3 separate regions of the Homo sapiens genome follow, and all the other regions are linked to region 2. The links come from fine-mapping of genetic effects on gene expression. A gene starts in region 2. Each other region holds a variant in brackets. All regions are shown on one strand. Distances are from middle to middle. Region 1 overlaps CEP89 (centrosomal protein 89). Region 2 holds the start of SLC7A9 (solute carrier family 7 member 9). Region 3 overlaps CEP89 (centrosomal protein 89).

Region 1 (6,578 bases), 98 kb after region 2:
CGTGTTGACCAGGCTGGTCTCAAACTACTAAGCTCAGGTGATCTGCCTGCCTTAGCCTCCCAAATTGCTGGGATTATAGGCATGAGCCACCACACTCAGCCAGTGTGTAAATGTTTACAGCAGCCTTTTTCTAGTAACCAAAAATTAGAAACAAACTAAATATCCATCAACAGGAGAATGGATAAACAAACTGTGGCATATTCATATAATGAAATACTACTCAGTAAGGAAAAGGATGAATTATTGACTTTCGGAACACGCGTTAATCAGAATAATCATGCTGAGTGAAGGAAGGCAGTGTATTTTATGTAACTCCACTTATATAAAATTCTAGAAAATACAAGCTAATCCATAGTGTGAGAAAGGAGATGAGAGGTTGCCTGGGGATGAACAGGAGCATGAAAGGTGGCAGAGAGGGGCAGGGGGAAGGAATTACAAAGGAGCATGAGGACCCTTGTCAGAATGATAGATATATTTATTATCTTTTTTTCTTTTTCAGGAGCTACCCTATTAATTATCTTTTTAAAATAAACTTTTTTAGAGGCAGGGCCTCACTCACAACAGCCTCACTGTTGCTCAGGCTGCAGTGCAGTGACATGATCATAGCTCACCGCAGCCTTTTCCTCTTGGGCTCAAGTGATCTTCCAGCCTTAGCCTCCCGAGTATCTGGGATTGCAGACATGCACCATCATGCTCAGATAATTTATTTTCTTTTGATTTTTGCTATAGATAAGGATTTGCTATGTTGCCCAGGCTGATCTTAAACTCCTGGGCACAAGCAATTCTCCTGCCTCAGCCTCCCAGGATCAGTTTACCCTAGGAGTTCAAGACCAACTTGGGCAACATAGTGAGACCTCCATCTCTGCAGAAAATTTAAAAAATTAGCCAGGCATGGTGGTGTGTACCTGTAGTCCCAGCTACTCAGGACGCTGAGACAGGAGGATCGCTTGATGCTAGGGGGTTGAGGCTGCAGTGAGTCACGTTCGCACCAATGCACTCCAGCCTGGGCAACAGAATGAGACCATATCTCGAAAAAACTTTTTGTTTTGGCCAGGCACAGTGGCTCACGTCTGTAATCCCAGGCACTTTGGGAGGCAGAGGCAGGTGGATTGCTTGAGCCCAGGATTTCAGCCTGGGAAACATGGCAAAACCCTATCTCTATAAAAAATAGAAAAATTAGTTGGGCATGGTGGTACATGCCTGTAGTCCCAGCTACCCGGCGGGCTGAGATGGGAGAACTGATTGAGCCTGGGAGGTGGAGGCTGCAGTGAGCCATGATTGCACCACTGCACTCCAGCCTGGGCAACAGAGCAAGATCTTGCCTTGAAAAAAAAATTAATAATTAAAAAAAAAAAAGAAAATGGGCTGGGTGCGGAGGTTGATGCCTGTAATCCCAGCACTTTCAGAGGCCAAGGCAGGCGGATTAAGAAAGAGGTCAGGAGTTTGAGACCAGTCTGGCCAACATGGTGAAGCCCCATCTCTACTAAAAATACAAAAATTAGCTAGGCGTGGTGGCATGTGCCTGTAATCCCAGCTACTCCGGAGGCTGAGGCAGGAGAATTGCTTGAACCTGGGAGGTGGAGGCTGCAGTGAGCCAAGATTGCGCCACTGCACTCCAGCCTGGGCAACAGAACAAGACTCCGTTTCGAAGGAAAAAAAAAAGAAAGAAAATTATGTGTATAATTCAAAATTCCCTGTTAACCTGAATACTTGGGCTTTAATGCTTTACATTTTTTTTTAAATACTCATTGCATTCAATCATGAAATGTGAGAAGTTCATGCACCTGAAAAGGAGAGACCTCAAGTCAGTCCATTATCCTCAGAGACACCATATTAATTGCATCATTATGGAATCGTGGTAAACATTTTGAAGGACATGATTCTAACCACCCTACTTATACTTTTCTGGGCAGTTTGAGCAGTTCCAGGATCCAGTACTTGGAGGCTGAGCACAGGGGTGACCTCAGTGCCTGCTCATCTGATACTCACCTTGGTCTCTCTGGAGATGGGTTGGGGCTGCGGGGAGGAGGTGTGCGTGGCACAGCTGCCTTCGGAGCAACGCTGGCTGCAGGTAAAAGGCCATGGATGATGTGTTTCTGCACAAATGAAATCCAACAGAAGTCACTGGGTTGGGTCACTGGATCACCTGAGTCTTGTCACCACTCTCCCTGGGCCTGCAAGGGGACACCTGCACTGGCCACCCATGGATCCAAACCCATCAGAAGCCCACTCCTCCCCTGCCATCCCCAGTCCCCATCAGGCCAGACAAGTGCACACAGCCAAGGAGCATCATGATAGCTGCTCATTGTGTGGCCCTCTTGTCCTTCCCTCCTCAGAGCTTCCCTGGCTGTCCCCAAGAGTCACCCTCTAGCTCTTCCATGTGTCCCACAGCACTCCCCCCAGTGATGTCTCATGTGGCTCCCCCTGCAGAGCAGGGCGACTTCCTGAGAAGCAAGTGATATCCTTATTGTTTTTCGCTTTGTTTTGTTTTTGAGATGGGGTCTTGCTCTGTTGCCCAGAGTGGAGTGCAGTGGTACGATCATAGCTCACCGCAGCCTCAAACTCCCGCTTCAGCCACACGAGTAGACGGGACTACAGATGTTCACCACCATGCCTAGGTAATTTTTGTATTTTTTTGTAGAGACAGGATCTCACTACATTGCCCAGACTGGTCTCGAACTTCTAGCTTCAAGTGATCCTCCCACCTCAGCTTCCCAAAGTGTTGGGATTATAGGTGCGAGTGCTGCACCTGGCCCACTCTCTTATCTTTATCAATCCTGGAACTCTAGCATTGAGCACATTGCCTCACACCTCATAGGGGCTTAATATAAGCTTTTAGGTGGCTTATCTCCAAGACGAGAGTAATGAAAACTAGCTCCTATACACAATGAAAGTCAGAGAGCTCCGCTTTAGGTAACTGTAACTGGGAGTCTCTGAGACGTTTCTGGGTCTAGTCCAAT[C/A]ATTTTCTTGGCACGAGCCATTCATTCACACCTACTAGAGGCAAAACACCATGACAGCAATGAAGAAACCTTGTCTTCATCCCCAAAGTGGTGAGAAGGGAGGAAAAACACCCAAATAATTATTACAGAACATAGAATTATGGAATGAGCCGGGAGAAAGGCTCTCACTAAAAATGAAAAAAAAAAAAAAGAGCATCAATGAGATGTGGGATAAAAACACTATTGTTTTCTATTTGAAGCCAGTAATTAGCACAAAGTGCTGGGGTGGGCAGGGAGGGAAGATTCCTCCAGGTCTGGGGCCAGCCTGGGAATTTCAAATGCTTTCCTTCGAGAAAATCACACAGGCGTTTAGACTGGGCTTTCAGAGATGCCCACTGGTCCCACATTTGGAAATGTGACGGAACAGCATTCTAGGAAGAGGGAACGGCATGAACAAAGGAATGGAGCAAGACATTGGTTGCAGTGCTCGGAAATCATAAGCACGATTCTCCGTTTTGCTAGACTAGAGGCATCTTCGAGGGTGGGGCTTGGGGGCATGGTGGGGACAATTCCCATGGGAAGGGCTTCCAGAGCAGATGGAGGAAATCCCAAGGCCTAGTGAGGAGCACCCACTGACAGTGGCCCCAGGAATGTTAGGTAGTGGTCAGCACGAGACACAAGGCTGGGAAGGGTGGCACAGAGTGGGGGCATCTTTCAGGAGTGAGGGATGGGCACACCTTCCAGTCATCTCCTACAGCCCCCACCACCGACTTGCACAGCCACCCACAGGAGCAGAAGCTCCAAGCAGTCTCTACCCAATACCCCCACTCTGTTTACCTCTGTGTGGCACCTGCCACCCTGTATTTGTCAAGTGATTCCACAGTTTCCATGTTTCCACCCTGCCCCCCTCCACCACCTGCTACACGACAAGAAATGGTTTTTGTTTGTTTGCTTGTTTTGGAGACAGTCTTGTCTGTCACCCAGGCTGGAGTGCGGTGGCACGATCTTGGCTCACTGCAACCTCCACCTCCTGGGTTCAAGCTATTCTCATGCCTCAGCCTCCCAAGTAGCTAGGACCACAGTCATGTGCCAACATGCCTAGCTAATTTTTGTATTTTGGTAGAGATGGGGTTTTACCATGTTGGCCAGGGTGGTCTCAAACTCCTGACCTCAGGCAATCCGCCTGCCTTGGCCTCCCAAAATACTGGGATTACATGTGTGAACCACTGCACCTGGCCAGAAAAGGTTTTCTTAACCTTTGAATCCCAAGGGCTGGCGTCCAGCAGGTCCTCCAAAAAGGCTGCATAAGATTTTTTTTTTTTAAAGAGTGAATCCCCCCTCATACCATCACAATCATTCCTAACTATGGTCCCCTCATCAATCCTGTCTCTACTGGGCATAAAAACCCTCATGGGCAGCACCACTCTCTCAACGGCAGGCAAATGTCCAGCATGGCTTATCAGGCTGATATAGGTTGGTTCCTACCAAGTGTTATGGGATTTTTGGGGTGTCGATTTTTCTGGCCGGAACCTCTGTGGCCACAGTGCCTTTGCCTGAGTTCTTGTCCTGCATCCAGGAAGAATGAGGTACACAGACAAGTGAAGGGTGAAGAGGAGTTTTATTTAGTGTTAGAAGAGCTCAGAGGAGTGGGTAGCTCCTCTCTGGAGACAGATTGTCCCATGAGCTCAACCATTCAGCTCTCAACAGAGAGGAGGCCCTGGAGAGAGTGGCTCCTCTCCGCAGGCAAGTCATTCCAATGTCTCTGCAGGTCTCTGAAGCTCGCAGCAGAGTGTAGCTCCTCTCTGCTGGCAGGTGGTCTCTGTAGCTTTCAGCGGAGAAGGTACTCCTCTCTGTAGCTGGTCACCCCACCGTCTCCAGCTATCAGCAGAGAGGGTACTGCTCTCTGCAGCTGGTCATCCTGTCCCCTCGTCTCTACCATCTTCATCCTCTGGCTATTCTCTGCGCTGCTCTGGCTGAGCCCAGGGTTTTTATGGACCTCAGCGGGGAAGAAGTGTGTGCTGATTGGGCCATTGGCAGGCCCAGAAAAGGCTCCACGAGTTTCCACTCTGGTCAGAGGGACTGGCAGCCCAGCCCCCAGAATTCAGGCCCTCCCTGGCCTGAGGGTGGGGCCTTACTGGGGACCCCACCCCCTTCCTCCTGCTGCCATTCATGGCTGCAGGTCTTGGCTCCGACTCCCCTCCAAGATCAGAGCAGTTGCTGGAGTGGAGAGAGGCCAGGCAGTGGAAGCAGACACCCCTGAGCCTGCAGGGATGGAGGGTGAAGGGGGCTGTCCTTCCTGGGATGGCCGATGGTGCAGGCTACAGAGATGCCCTCGTCCTGTGCCTGGGGGGGCAGCCACAGCTGCACCTGGGAGCTCCCACCCCGCCAACTTGGAAGAGGCAGGGCTCCCACTTGTCCCTGGCTCCTGCCTGCGCGGCTGCAGCTGCATCTGGAAGGGCAAATTCTGCCTGTTCCCGGCTCCCCCAGGAGCAGAGAGGCTCGGATCCACAGCTGCAGTTTGGGTGGCTGTAGCCCTGCCCAAGAGGGTGGGGCTCCTGCCTGCTCCATAGAGCAGAAGGCCTGGGTCTGCAGCAGCGGTTTGCGGCTCCAGTCCCAACTCATGAGGGACGGGGCTTCCACCGGCTCCATGAAGTGTGCAGCCCTAGCCACACAGCGTGATGGCAGCAGCCACTGCCATCACAAGGACCCAAATTCATTTCTTGCTTCCCCTCCTCTTCCTGCGCAGAGTCCCTGTGCTTCAGCACTCAGCGTGGGCTTCCATTTCCCAAACAGCAAATAATTCATTCTTTTTTAGGCCTTGGTATTTGCTGTCTTCTGCACCCAGAATTCTTTCCTTACTCCCTGCCAGGCCCAGGCCAACTCTCCAGGCTGACGTCACTGCCCTTCTGGTACACACATCAACAGCAGTTCTTGTTTTACCATTGTGTACAGAATTATTTATGGGCTTGTCTATCCTACAGACCGTGTGGCCATAAGCTGTCAGTTGTGGGTATCAGCACACAGCAGGGACTCATTAATGTTTGGGGCTTTAAATAAAAACTCAAGCCAGATGCAGTGGCTCACACCTGTAATCCCAACACTCTGGAGGCCAAGGTGAGAGGATTGCTTGAGCCAAGGTTTAAGACCAGCCTGGGCAGCATACCCAGACCCCATCTCTACCAAAAAAAAAAAATTATGTTTTTTTGAGGCAGAGTCTAGCTTTGTCGCCCAGGCTGGAGTGCAGTGGCACAATCTTGGCTCACTGCAACCTCTGCCTCTCGGGTTTAAGCGATTATCCCACCTCAACCTCCCGTGTAGCTGGGATTACAGGTGCCCACCACCACGCCCGCTAATTTTTGTATTTTTAGTAGAGATGGGTTTTCACCATGTTGGCCAGGCTAATCTTGAACTCCTGACCTCAAATGATCCGCCTGCCTCAGCCTCCCAAAGTGCTGGATTACAGGTGAGAGCCACCTCACGTGGCCTCTACAAAATAATTTTTAAAATTAGCCAGGCATTGAGACTTGGCAGAGTGTGAGGCAAAAAATAAAATAAATAAAAAATACCTAGGTGTGGTGGTGCACACCTGTAGTCCCAGCTACTCAGGAGCCTGAGGCAGGAGGATCACTTGAACCCAAG
Region 2 (6,578 bases):
GGAGTGCAATGGCGCGATCATGACTCACTGCAGCCTCGATCTCCTGGGCTCAAGGGATCCTCCCACCTCAGCCTCCCAAAGTGCTAAGGTTACAGGCGTGTGCCGCCACACCTGTCCCCAGCTCAGAAGACACATCTTGGGGATTTCTCAGCTGTGCTCTGTGGCCACTGGGGCCCACCAGGGTTCTAAGAGGCCCTTCCTGAGATCAGGCCTGAGACTGGCAGAGAGGGAAAGTGCTGCAGCCCATCGTCTACCTCCTGGGGGTCCCAGGCCAAGCCATTCAGGCCATTGCCAGCCCTCCGGTCAAGCCCTAAAGCCTTGGTGCCGTCCCTCCTCCATCCCCTCTGCTGCCAGGCATGGGAGCTCTCGGAGGCCCTGCCCACACCTCTGCCCTGGAAGCGGAAGCCATCCTGAGCTCACCTGGAGCTGCCTTTCCTCATCCTAGGAGCCTGAAGCCCTCCCTGCGCCTCCATGCTCAGCACCTGCTGCTCCCAACTGCCTGGGACTGGCGCAGTGTGCTGTGTTGAGCTCCTTTCTGCCTTCCCCCCAGCCCCAAGCTCCCTTTCCCTGCAGGCCCAGGGCCAGCCCCAGCTGCTCACTGCAGCCCAACTCAGAGCAGCTGTCCCTGGTAGATGCCTCTAAGACAGAACAGGCTATGCTGGGGGCAGTACTTCCCATCACTACAGCCATTCAGATATAAGGAGGACAGGCATTTAGAGGGGACTCAACCATCAGAACGCCCTCTCTGGCTGGGCACAGCGACTCACGCCTATAATCCCAGCACTTTGGGAGCCTGAGGTGGGAGGATCGCTTGAGCCCGGGAGTTCCAGACCAGCCTGGGCAACACAGCAAGATACTGACTCTACAGAAAGAATTTTTTTGAAAAGTTAAAAATTTGGCAGAGCATGGTGGTGTGCTCCTGTAGTCCCAGCTACTCAGGAGGCTGAGGCAGGAGGATTGCTTGAGTCCAGGAGGTTGACGCTGCAGTGAGCTATGATTGCACCACTGCACTCCAGCCTGGGTGACAGAGTAAGACCCTGACTCTAAAAAAATTTTTTTAAAAATTTTTAAAAAGAACGCCCTTTCTGACCATTCCTGGAAAGGCCATTAGTTTGAACAAAAATACTGGCCCGTCTAGACACTTGCTCAACACACAAAAGCACCTATTTATGAACTTAAAATAATATGCGGGCCGGGCAAGTTGGCTCATGCCTGTAATCCCAACACTTTGGGAGGCCGAGGTGGGCGGATCACTTGAGGCCAGGAATTGGAGACCAGCCTGGCCAATATGGTGAAACCTCGTCTCTACTGAAAATACAAAAATTAGCCAGGCGTAGTGGCACATGCCTGTAGTCCCAGCTACTCAGGAGCTGCTTGAACCCAGGAAGCGGAGGTTGCAGTGAGCTGAGATCATACCACTGCACTCCAGCCTGGGTGACAGAGCAAGACTCTGTCTCAAAAAAAAAAAAAAAAAAAAAAAAGAATATGCAGCCGAGTGCAGTGGCACACGCCTGTAATCCCAGCACTTTGGGAGGATCACCTGAGGCCAAGAGTCTGAGACCAGCCTGGCCAACATGGTGAAACCCTGTCTCTACTAAAAATACAAAAATTAGCCGGGTATGGTGGCGGGTGCTTGTAATCCCAGCTACTCGGGAGGCTGAGTCAGAAGAATCCCTTGAACCGGGGAGGTGAAGGTTGCATTGAGCCGAGATGGCAGCACTGCACTCTAGCCTGGGTGACAGAGCAACACTCCATCTCAAAAAAAAAAAAAAAAAAAAGAAGATGCAGAATTCCCTGGCGAGAGGGAAAGAGAAGTAAGTCCAGAGATTATCCCTTTAAAGATGTACTTCACAAATCAAAGAGTACATCTTCTGCCGTGTCACTAGGGATCGGCCCGGATTTCACTGCCTGCGCCCCTCGTTCAGACGCCCTTGCCTAACCTGCAAAGGGCCTGCCCCACCAGAGACCGCCTTACCTCCTTTTGGAGACTGGTGGTCTTAGGCTCTTGGCTCTGGATCGACTTCTCATCCTCTCTCCGCTTTCTCAGGCCAGTATCCCCCATGTTTCCTCCTGCTGGTTCCAGGAGACTGCAAGGAGGGCGCACAGCTAAATCTTGGTTCAGCAGCAGCAGACAAGACGCAAGTGCAAGCTCGGCCTGGACTAGGGGAGCTGGCTGCAAAAGCACAGTGTTGGTTATTGCTGCAGGTGGGGGCCGCTGCCAGTCCCTCAGGGCTCATGCGCTGGGCCCCAGAGTCAAAGTCAGTCATTAACATTGTCCAGGCAGGGGAACACAGCTCCCCGCTGCTCTCCAAAGCTCAGCTGCTTGCTTAGCTCTCTCCCAGACAGGCCCCGGGAGCCTCCTGGCCCACGTGCCTGTGCCTTGAAAGTCATTCTACCTCTATGGTCAACTTCATTTTTTTTCAAAAGTAAAAAGAAATATTTAACAACATCCCGGGCTGGGCACAGTGGCTCAGGTCTGTAATCCCAGCACTTTCGGAGGCCGAGGTGGGTGGATCACTTGAGCCCAGGAGTTTGAGACCAGCCTGGCTAACATGGCGAACCCCGTCTCTACTAAAAATGCAAAAAAAAAAAAAAAAAAATTAGCTGGGTGTGGTGGTGGGTGCCTGTTAATCCCAGCTACTCGGGAGGCTGAGGCAAGAGAAGCACTTGAACCCTGGAGGCAGAGGCTGCAGTGAGCCAAGATCATGCCACTGCACTCCAGCCTGGGCCACAGAGCGAGATTCTGTTTCAAAAAATATATATATAAAAAATTAAAAAATGAAAATATTGTGGAATGTATTTATCAGAATCAAGTCCAGGTAAGGAGTGTCTGTCTTATAATTCCTTCCCAAGATTAAAGGCACTCCCATACATCACAGATCCACAATACAGGTACTTTTTCTTTGTACTTTTTAAATTTTTACAATATTTTTTATAAAGACGGGAGTGTTGCTATTTGCCCCGGCTGGCCTCAAGCAGTCCTTCCACCTCGGCCTCCCAAAGGGCTGGGATTTCAGGGGTGAGCCACCACGCCTGGCCAGGTACTTTTTCATTGAGTGATGAAAGGAAAGAAAACATTGCCGAGGAAACCCAGTTCCAGACTGAACTAGGAGAAAACCATGCACTCCTGTACCCTCTCTCTAAATAAATTATCTGTCCAGGCCCCGGCCAGGAGAGCCATGAGCCTTTCTATCACCTACTGACCTTACTTACCTTCCTCCGTGACCCTGCAGAGCCGGAGGAGCTGCGGCCCAGCTGACCGCCCGTGCCTGCACGGTCCAACCCTAGAAATGGCCATGTCTTGTGCCCAGGAGCAAAGGAAGTCCAGAAGGTACAGAGGTCAATAAGGGTAATTATTAAACACCTTTTTTTTTTTTTTTGCAATGAAGCTTAGATACGCCACACAAAAAAGGGGAGGGTCAGGAACACCAATTTCTCTCCAAAACCGTTTTTGTTTTGTTCATTTGTGTCTAGGTCAGATTATTTTTTTAAAACCAGATGGTCCCAAATCGTCTACACTTTTTACCTAAAGATAAAATAAATTATGCCTTCTTTTATCTTTGGGAATCAGAGGAGATAAACTTTGGAACCAATTCGCTAATTGCCTTAATAGGCTATATTTAAAACCCAAGTCAGGCAGCTCAAACAGGAACCGCTGTGTGTGCGTAACTCAGCTGTTGGTCAGTTTCCTCCCCGCCCAGGAATTTCCCCCAAGCCAAGGGCCTGCCTCTGGCTGAGCAGGTGAGAGCGGCTGAGCCCGTCCCACTCCTCTTTACCAGTGATGGGGCTTCACCACTTGGAATCACAAGCAGGCCTGAGGCAATGCAGGGCCTCGTGTCCTCCCTGCAGCTGCGGCCAAATGCCCATCAGGTTTGGCTGTGGTGCTGTTCACGTAGCCATGTCCTGGCTCATCACAAGGGACACAAAACCTTCCCCTTCGGGGAAACGGAGGGGGACAGGCAACACAAGGCCAGGAAGCTCCGGTCCGCATCCAGGGCTGCCAGGGTCTGGATCTCTCTGGGAGGGAGCAGAGGTTCTCCCGCACTGCGATTGGACCTAGGCTCAGGCGGCAGCCTCAGGGGTCAGCACGAAGCCCTTTCAGATAGGGAAGGAAGCACCTTATGAGACCTTATGAGACAGCCTGGCACAGCATAAGCACTGCATCTGAAGCATCGTAGCTGTTACCTTCAGCCAAAACTCTGGTAGCTTTGCCTTGGGCCAAACTTAACTGCATCCCAGATATCAGATGGAAGCAAAGGTCAGGGATGGAAGGAGCTGGGCCAGTCTCTGGGGGTCAGTTTGGGAGCAGTTTGGGGCAAGCAGACCTGAGAGAGGCACAGGTTTCTCTGAAAGCCGTCTGCAGAGCACAGGGACCCTTGTTGTCCCAGAGGCACGGTCCTGATTTAGAAGTTCGTCACCTCCCATCTTGGGAGGGCCCACCTGTTTACCTGCCTGCCATGCCCAGAGCCCTGAGCAGAGAGGCTAGTGGCAGGTCCTGCCACCCTAGACAGAACCTGCCCACCGGCTTGCTGGGGTCACTCCTCCTAATGTTGCAGCACTCATCATAGTACCTGGCACATCCATGTTTGCAAAACACCACAGAATACCCCCTGGGTCAAAAGTGCTCCTGGCAGGCTGACAGGAGACCACGTGAGGACATCAGGGTGGGGCAGTGGTCCCCCGCTGGGGCCAGACAGCCCTGCAACCTCACCCACTACCCACATGGGCTCAGGCAGCACTGCCAGGATCAGGGTCTGAACCTGCGACGCAGGGCGAGCAACAGGCGCCTCCTCACGGAACACACTGAACTTGCATGTTCCATGAATGTCCGGGACCAGCCCTCTGGTCTTCCTGGGCCTCTTCCAAGTGCCGAGTCTGGAACATCGGGATGTGAGGGTCCTTTGTTAAGTCAGAAACCTCCACTTCAGTTCATTTTGGGTCCACGGTGAGCATTTCTTAAGCCTGTTTCTTAAAGTTGTGTTTTTCACCGCAGTCCCACCCTCTCCCTCCCTTGAATACACAGAAAGTATTCAAGTAATTCTCATAAGCTCTTCCTCATGGAAAATAATACGGATTTCATTTAAAAAGCAAAATTTTCCTCAGTTCTTGAAGACCATTGGTTCATTGTGTATCCAGTGCTTCTGCCATGTGACTGAAGTTTCACCTCCCTGCTGTCAATTTTTTTTTTTTTAGATGGAGCCTCACTCTGTCGCCCAGGCTGGAGTGCAGTGGCACGATCTCAGCTCACTGCAACCTCTGCCTCCTGGGTTCAAGTGATTCTCCTGTCTCAGCCTCCTGAGTAGCTGGGATTACAGGCATCCACCACCATGCCTGGCTAATTTTTGTATTTTTAGTAGAGATGGGGTTTCACCATGTTGGCCAGGTTGGTCTTGAACTCCTGACCTCAAGTGATCCACCTGCCTCGGCCTCCCAAAGCGCAAATCCTACTGTCATTTTTACCATTTTATTTATTTATTTTTGAGACTTGCTGTGTCACCCAGGCTGGAGTGCAGTGTCATGATCTCAGCTCACTGCAACCTCCGCCTCCCAGGTTCAAGCGATTCTCCTCCCTCAGCCTCCCGAGTAGCTGGTACTACATGTGTGACAATATACCCGGCTAATTTTTGTATTTTTAGTAGAGACAGGGTTTCATCATGTTGGCCAGGCTGATCTTGAACTCCTGACCTCAAGTAATCCACCCGCTTCAGCCTCCCAAAGTGCTGGGATTACAGGTGTGAGCCACCACACCCGCCCAACCACTCTATTTCTTAAGTTTCTGCTAAAGACTCTTGACCTTCATTTTCAACCCGTGCTTTTTCCCTTCCGATTGCAAAAATGCTTGCAGTGTGAAGATCTTCACACCATCTACATTTTATCTTATATTTGGTGCACATTTGATTTCAGTTGGGGAGGGTAAAATGCTTCTCTCCACCCTTTTGGGTTCTTTGGTTGGGCTTCGAATTGAGACTAATGGGAGGAAAACTGTTTTAATTATGTGTATATGCAACTGAGTCCCACAAAACAAGAGACTTGAAGAAGGGCCAGATGACTAAACCCTATATAGCATCCTGAGCTATATAAGGATTAGGGGCTTGGGGCTTCTGGGGCAGGTAGGGACTAGTAATGGGATGGTGAGGGGAGGAAATGCATGGCGAATAAAGGTCGTCTTGTTATGCAGATATAAGTCTCTCAGGTAATAAAAGTTGTCTCTTCCTGGTACAGATACTTGTACTAATGTAGATTTCCTTCATGACATACATTTCTTTTGCAAAGGGCAGCTTTTCAGAGCTACACCTGTTGTGTCTGCAGTTTCTCAGAATAACCAGCTCAAAATATTCCAAAGAAGTATAATTTGGGGTGATATATATCTAGTCTCCTACAGTCATATTTTGGGGGTGGTGTGTCCTGAGCCCCAACATTTCCTTCTCCTGTGATGGTTTGTGTCTGAGACAGGGTCTCTTGCTCCCATGCTAGAGTGCAATGGCGTGATCATGGCTCACTCCAGCCTTGACCTCTTGGGCTCAAGTGATCCTCCCATTTCAGCCTCTCAAAGTGCTGAGATTACAGGCGTAAGCCAT
Region 3 (6,578 bases), 47 kb after region 2:
AAATTTAAAAAATAGAATATATAAATATATAATAATAAAAAATATAAATATATAAAATATTCATATATAATTATACAAAATATTATATAATTATACATATATTAGTTACACATATTAATTATGTATGTTTCCTATACATAATTATCATATATACCATATGTATATATACCATATCTCTCTCTCTTACATACACACACATACAAGATTCTTTTTGACATGAGAAAATAGCCACCATATATATATATATATATTTTTTTGTTGTTGTTGTTGTTGTTGTTGTTGTTGTTTCACAATGTTGCCCAGGCTGATCTCAAACTCCTAGGCTCAAGCAATCCTCCTACCCGGACTATTACCAATTGGCCAATTACCAATTACATACATACCATACATAGGTATATATATACACGCACATACACATGTAATTATACAAACACATACATTTATACATACATACTAGAATGATCAACTCATTTCACTTTGCCTAGGACATTCCCAATTTTAGCACTATAAGTCCCACATCCTGGGAAACCCCTCAGTCCCAGGCAAACTGTTATGGTTGGTTACACACACACATACACACACACTTTTTTTTTTTTTTTTGAGACAAAGTCTCGCTCTTGTCCCCCAGGCTGGAGTGCAGTATTGCAATTTCAGCTCACTGCAACCTCCGCCTCCCAGGTTCAAGCAATTCTCCTGCCTCAGCCTCCCGAGTAGCTGGGATTACAGGTGCCTGCCACCATGCCTGGCTAATTTTTATACTTTCAGTAGAGACAGGGTTTCACCAGGTTGGCCAGGCTGGTCTCAAACTCCCCTCCTCAGCTGAACCACCCGCCTCGGCCTCCCAAAGTGCTGGGATTACAAGTGTGAGCCACCGTGCCCGGCCACACACACGTCTTAAAAAATAAAATTGTAATCATTTTCTATGTGCTGTTTTAAAACCTAAACTCATTACTTAAAATATATTGTGGCCAGGCAGGCACGCCCCTGTAGTCCCAGCTACTTGTGGGGCTGAGGTAGTAGGAGAACTGCTTGAGTCCAGGAGTTTGAGACCAGACCAGCCTGAGCAACATTGTAAAAAAACAGACATATGGTGGCTATTTTCCTATGTCAAAAAGGATCTTGTGTCACATCATATTTAATGACTGCATTTCCTTCCATTTCAAGGATATATCCTTTCATTTAACTAATTCCTTATTACTGGATATCTAGGTTTCCAGTTTTACTATTTTATTTATTTATCATTTTTTGAGATAGGAGACAGGGTCTTACTCTGTTGCCCAGGCTGGAGTACAGTGGCGTGATCTCAGCTCACTGCAGCCTCGATCTCCCATGTAGCTGGGACCACAGGCGCATACCACCACGCCTGGCTAGTTTTTGTATTATTATTATTTTTTTTGGTAGACATGCAGTTTCGCCATGTTGCCCAGGCTGGTCTCAAATTTCCAGGTTCAAGTGACCTGCCTGCCTTGGCCTCTCAAAGTGTTGGGATCACAGGCATGAGGCACTACCCCCAGCCCAGTTCCACTATTTTAAATTGCCTTTGGTTCTAAAACTAACACAGGCCAAAACAGTATGAAAAAAAAATCACAAACACCCAAAGTGCAGACTGCAGCCCTCAAGGAGAGCCAGGCTCTACTTTAATTTACCATTTATTACCAAAGTTATTAAAAGAAAAAAAAAGTCAGGCTGGGCGTGATGGCTTACACCTGTAATTCCAGCACTTTGGGAGGTCAAGGCAGGCAGATCACTTGTGGTCAGGAGTTTGAGACCAGCCTGGTCAACATGGTGAAACCCCGTCTCTACCAAAAATACAAAAATTAGGCAGGTGTGGTGAGCCGCCCCTGTAATCCCAGATACTCAGGAGGCTGAGGCAGGAGAATCACTTGAACCCAGGAGGTGGAGGTTACAGGTGCCGAGACTGCACCACTGCATTCTAGCCTGCGCAACAGAGTGAGAGTCCGTCCCAAAAAAAAAAAGTCCCAGTCTCACTTTCAGACACCTGTGCCACTATGCTGTGCATGACCATAGGTGAAGAAACCCAGAAAGAACTGAGCAACCTCTCTCCATTCTGCCTATAACCACAGGCAGAGTGACTCATTATACTCAAAAAGTCATTAAATCAGCTGGGCGCAGTGGCTCATGCCTGTAATCCCAAAACTTTGAGAGGCTGGGATGGGCAGATCACTTGAGCCCAGGAGTTTGGGACCAGCCTGAGCAACATAGCAAGACCCTGTCTCGAAAAAAGAAAAAAAAAAAAAAAGAAAAAACATTAAATCCTTACCTTTTTAATTCATTCACAATTGATTTATGAACTTCCACTGCGATTTTGCCATCCGAGTGTGTTTTGAGTTCTTGGCATTTGGCACGTAAAATCTCCAGCTGTTCCCTGTTCTCCGCCAGCTCCTTTTCCTGGCCGTGGGTTTTTGCCTCCAGGAGCATTAGTTGTTTAGTCAGCTTAGAAACTGAAAATCAAAAGAGGAAGATAAAAACTTGGCACAGAAGACCTCACAAAACACAATTATGGGCTATTAGGAAATACTAATGAGAGTCAGCTGATAAAAATGACCTTTTAAAGATCTTTTGAGCCAGACGTGGTGGCTCACACCTGTAATCCCAGCACTTTGGGAGGCTGAGGCGGGTGGATCACGAGGTCAGGAGTTCAAGACCAGCCTGGCCAAGTTGGTGAAACCCTGTCTCTACTAAAAATACAAAAATTAGCCAGGCGTGGTGGCAGGCGCCTGTAATCCCAGCTATTCAGGAGGCTGAGGCAGAGAATCACTTGAACCCAGGAGGCGAGAAGGCTCAGTGAGCTGAGATCACGCCACTGCACTTCAGCCTGGGCAACAGAGTGAGACTCTCTCAGAAAAAAAAAAAAAAAAAAAGATATTTTGGAGTGTTATAAATTAACACCAAAGGCTTTGTCCTTAGAAGTTACTGTCCATACTAGGCACAGTGACTCATACCTGTAACCCCAGCCCTTTGGGAGGCTGAGGGGAGTATTGCTTGGGGTCAGGAGTTTGAGACCAGCCTGGGTAACATAGTGAGACCCCATCTCTACATAAAAATTTAAAAATTAGCAGGGCATGGTGACATGCGTCTGTGGTCCCAGATATCCGGGAGGCTGAGGCAGGAGGACTGCTTGAGCCCAG[A/G]AGTTCAGGACTATAGTGAGCCGTGACTGGGCCACTGCACTCCAGCCTGGATGACACAGCGAGACCTTGTCTCCAAAAACAAAAACCAAAAAAGCCAAAAGAAATTACTATCTCTACATTAAGCACTCACTAAATATATACTTTTTAAAATAAAATCCACTATAATATTTTACCAAACATGATTCCAGTCTTCAAGGAACTGACTTTCCTAAGAGTAAAGCCTTAAATCACACCCAGGTGTGTAAGTATATGTCATAACGTTGTCCCTAAAGCTGCAAAATTTTCAAGATTTTTAAGGACATCAAACATGGCCAAACTAAGAACTGGATTTATTATTCTCCTTCCCTTTCGTCATTAAACTTTTATTTTATGTCTTGTATCTAAAGTAAGTCATAAATATTTTCATCCTGTGTTACATGGTTGCATGTAATAATTCCCAAGCGTCTGCCGACACTAGCACTTAGAGGTATTTATTATAGCATAAAACTGTACATCTCTCTACTCTATGAAAATATCTAATTGGTGGCTGGGCACAGTGGCTCACGCCTGTAATCCTAGCATTTTGGGAGGCCAAGGTGGGTGGATCACTTGAGGTCAGGAGTTCAAGACCAGCCTGGCCAACATGGTGAAACACCCCTACTGAAAATACAAAAATTAGCCGGGAGTGGTGGCGCGTGACTGTAATCCCAGCTACCCGGGAGGTTGAGGCAGGAGAATCGCTGGAACCTGGCAGGCGGAAGTTGCAGTGAGCCTAGATCATGCCACTGCACTCCAGTCTGGGCGACAGAGTGAGACTGTCTCAAAAAAAATAAAAAGAAAATATCTAATTGGTCAAAGTGAATCGCTGTTTCTGGGCAATGGGAAAATAGCACAGGCAACTCACTGAATCATAGAGGTCAAAAGGTTTTCCCTGCCCCATGTGACCAGAAATCCTCTTTCTGTTCAGATCTGGTATATTCAAGAAAATTAAGCTCAGTAAATAGGAAACTAATGTCATCCCTAACCCTGAAAACAAAGATAAGAGGCTCCACAACTCTGTTTCCCCTCTCCTCTTAACAATGCCGGAGTAAAGGCAAATACTCCTGGGCCATGCAGGTCTCAGGAGAAATCACATGGAGGAAACTCCTGTGTGCATCTCTGGGAGATGCTCTCATCTTTAAACACGACCTGGTTCTCAGAAACAGGAAGTGCTAGCCCTGCAACTGCAGCAACAGCAGGGGCTGTTCATGGACCTGCCATGCTGTGGAAGGGGCTGCCATTCCAAAAGCAGCTGGAGAGGGAAAACCTCCATCTGCTTCTCAGGGTGCCACAGCCTCATGCAAGATGGCTTGTGTTTCAGCTTCCCAGCCTATGCCATTCTTCACTAAGAAAGAAAAATCAGTAAAGCAAAGGGAAAAAATGCCACTATCTTTTGTACTCATGAATTACGGTTTTAAAGCAGAAGCGATGACTCTTAACCTGGCCCCCTTACAGTTGTGCACTGTCACAGACTATGAGGCTCCTAGGGGTTGGGGGAATGCATGGGAAGAGATGGGAAGAGGGACACTCTCGGAAGGTGTTTGATGGAAATCTAACCTGCAGTGATGTCGCCTCCCAGGCCCGCAGCTCTGAAGGAAGGAAGGACACAGGGGAACTGTTTAGAAAGTGAATGGTTCTGCTTACGCATCCAACAAACATCTGGGAAGAGACCCTGTGTTATTTCAGATGTTTACCTCACGTGATCATTCCCATTTCTAAGGTACTATTTTACCCCAAAACCAGTTCTGCTGAGTCTAGCACTATTACCTACGAGTGATTTACAAACCCATGGGATGATGAGAGACACTGTGGAGTCTGAAAAAGCAATCTATGCATTGAGGGTAGTGACGTGGAAAGGTTATAAACAGCCACATTCCAGTCAAAAATGCAAAACATGACTTCTCTCATTTTCAACTGGGGCCCCCGGCAGGAGAGAGATAGAAGGGTAAAATGACAATAGTGACATCAATGCATGACCAGTCCTCACTGGAAGGACCTCACCTTCTTGGAGGCGCTCCTGGTGGCTGTCCTTGGCTTTCCTTTGCTGAATCTCCAACTGCTCCAGCAACAACTTGTTTTCCTCTAAAACCAGTTTTGCTTGAGTCTGAAGCTGACGCCTGCAATTGATTTACAAGATGAAATACTGTGATTCAGGTGCTGAATGGTTACAGAAACACTCTGGAATCTAAAAGGAAGCAATGGCTGCATTACAGGTAATGAATATCAAGTCATGTCTTCATGTTAAACATATTAACACAGCAGCAAATCCTGCCATTTGCAGTCAGGCGAGGAAGGACAGCCGTGAAGTCTGAATTACGGACTGCTTCAGAAAACGCTTTCAGATGTAAAATTTCAAACATGTACAGAAGTAAAGAGGATAGAGTAGGAGACTCCTATGTGCACAATACCCAGCTTGAACAGTCACTAAATGGCTGATGAGGTTTCATCTGTATAAACCTCTAGTCCTGCTGCCCACTATATTATTCTGAAGCCCATATGGAACATGTTTAAAGAATTTAGAAAGTTCCCATTTCAATTTTAAAATACTCCTTTGTAATCAGTAGCATATTTGCAAAACAAAACAAAACAAAAAAACAAAAAAAACTGACTCTGTTAGCAGGCTTTGAAATGGTTTCTTTTTTCTTTTTTCTTTTTCTTTTTCTTTTTTTTTTTTTTTTTTGAGACAGAGACTTGCTCTGTTGCCCAGGCTGGAGTGCAGTGGCGCAATCTCGGCTCACTGCAAGCTCTGCCTCCCGGGTTCACATCATTCTCCTGCCTCAGCCTCCCAAGTAGCTGGGACTACAGATGCCCACCACGCCGCCTGGCTAATTTTTTTGTATTTTTAGTAGAAACAGGGTTTCACCATGTTAGCCAGGATGGTCTCGATCTCCTGACCCCGTGATCTGCCCGCCTCGGCCTCCCAAAGTGCTGGGATTATAGGCATGAGCCACCGCGTCCAGCCGAAATGGTTTCTTAAAACTGTATGAATCTGCCCCAGCTTTCCTCTCAGCACAAACAAATCCTCTCCTTCCAGTGCAATGTAAAACCCAGCCCAGCTCAGCCCTCAAGATCGCAAATTCTGATTAGAATGAGCTGAAGGGACCTTAGAAATCATCTAGTGAAATGCTGACCACCCAAAGTACACTGGGCGTTAAGTTTATTTACTAAAGCAGTAAATAATCTCGATTTTCCACTTGAAACCCTACAGGTGAGGAGGAGGAAGGAGAGAGACAAGATGAAAGGAGTCAGGCTGTAACAATGGTGTGGCCCCAACAGTGGTGTGCACTGGCTCCTGGGCACTGTGGGGGTGCCTCTTGCCTGCTACCAGCACCCAGGGAGTGGGCTGCCATGCTGTTGGGAGGGGGCTCGCCCAAAACTGGTCTGTGCTAGCCTCCTCATTCCCGCCACAAA

What was found. PIP is the estimated chance that this variant, and not a neighbour inherited with it, causes the effect.
Region 1: its variant is the best candidate, but not a certain one, in a credible set for the expression of SLC7A9 in substantia nigra (GTEx, PIP 0.82).
Region 3: its variant is the best candidate, but not a certain one, in a credible set for the expression of SLC7A9 in breast (GTEx, PIP 0.63).

The regions. Positions count from the first base shown.
Region 1 is chr19:32,964,371-32,970,948 of GRCh38, forward strand. CEP89 (centrosomal protein 89) reads right to left here. Exons shown (of 19, transcript NM_032816.5): 2 at 1,990-2,096. Among named protein-coding and RNA genes, the nearest start is that of CEP89, 4.3 kb to the right of the region's middle. The variant C/A (reference allele first, on the strand shown) is at 2,961.
Region 2 is chr19:32,866,473-32,873,050 of GRCh38, forward strand. SLC7A9 (solute carrier family 7 member 9) reads right to left here and starts at 3,295. Exons shown (of 13, transcript NM_014270.5): 1 at 3,214-3,295; 2 at 1,976-2,173. The coding sequence starts at 2,062. RefSeq lists enhancers at 1,583-2,158, 3,600-4,122, 4,123-4,645.
Region 3 is chr19:32,913,056-32,919,633 of GRCh38, forward strand. It overlaps CEP89 (centrosomal protein 89), which reads right to left. Exons shown (of 19, transcript NM_032816.5): 13 at 5,169-5,284; 14 at 2,282-2,462. Among named protein-coding and RNA genes, the nearest start is that of SLC7A9, 47 kb to the left of the region's middle. The variant A/G (reference allele first, on the strand shown) is at 3,150.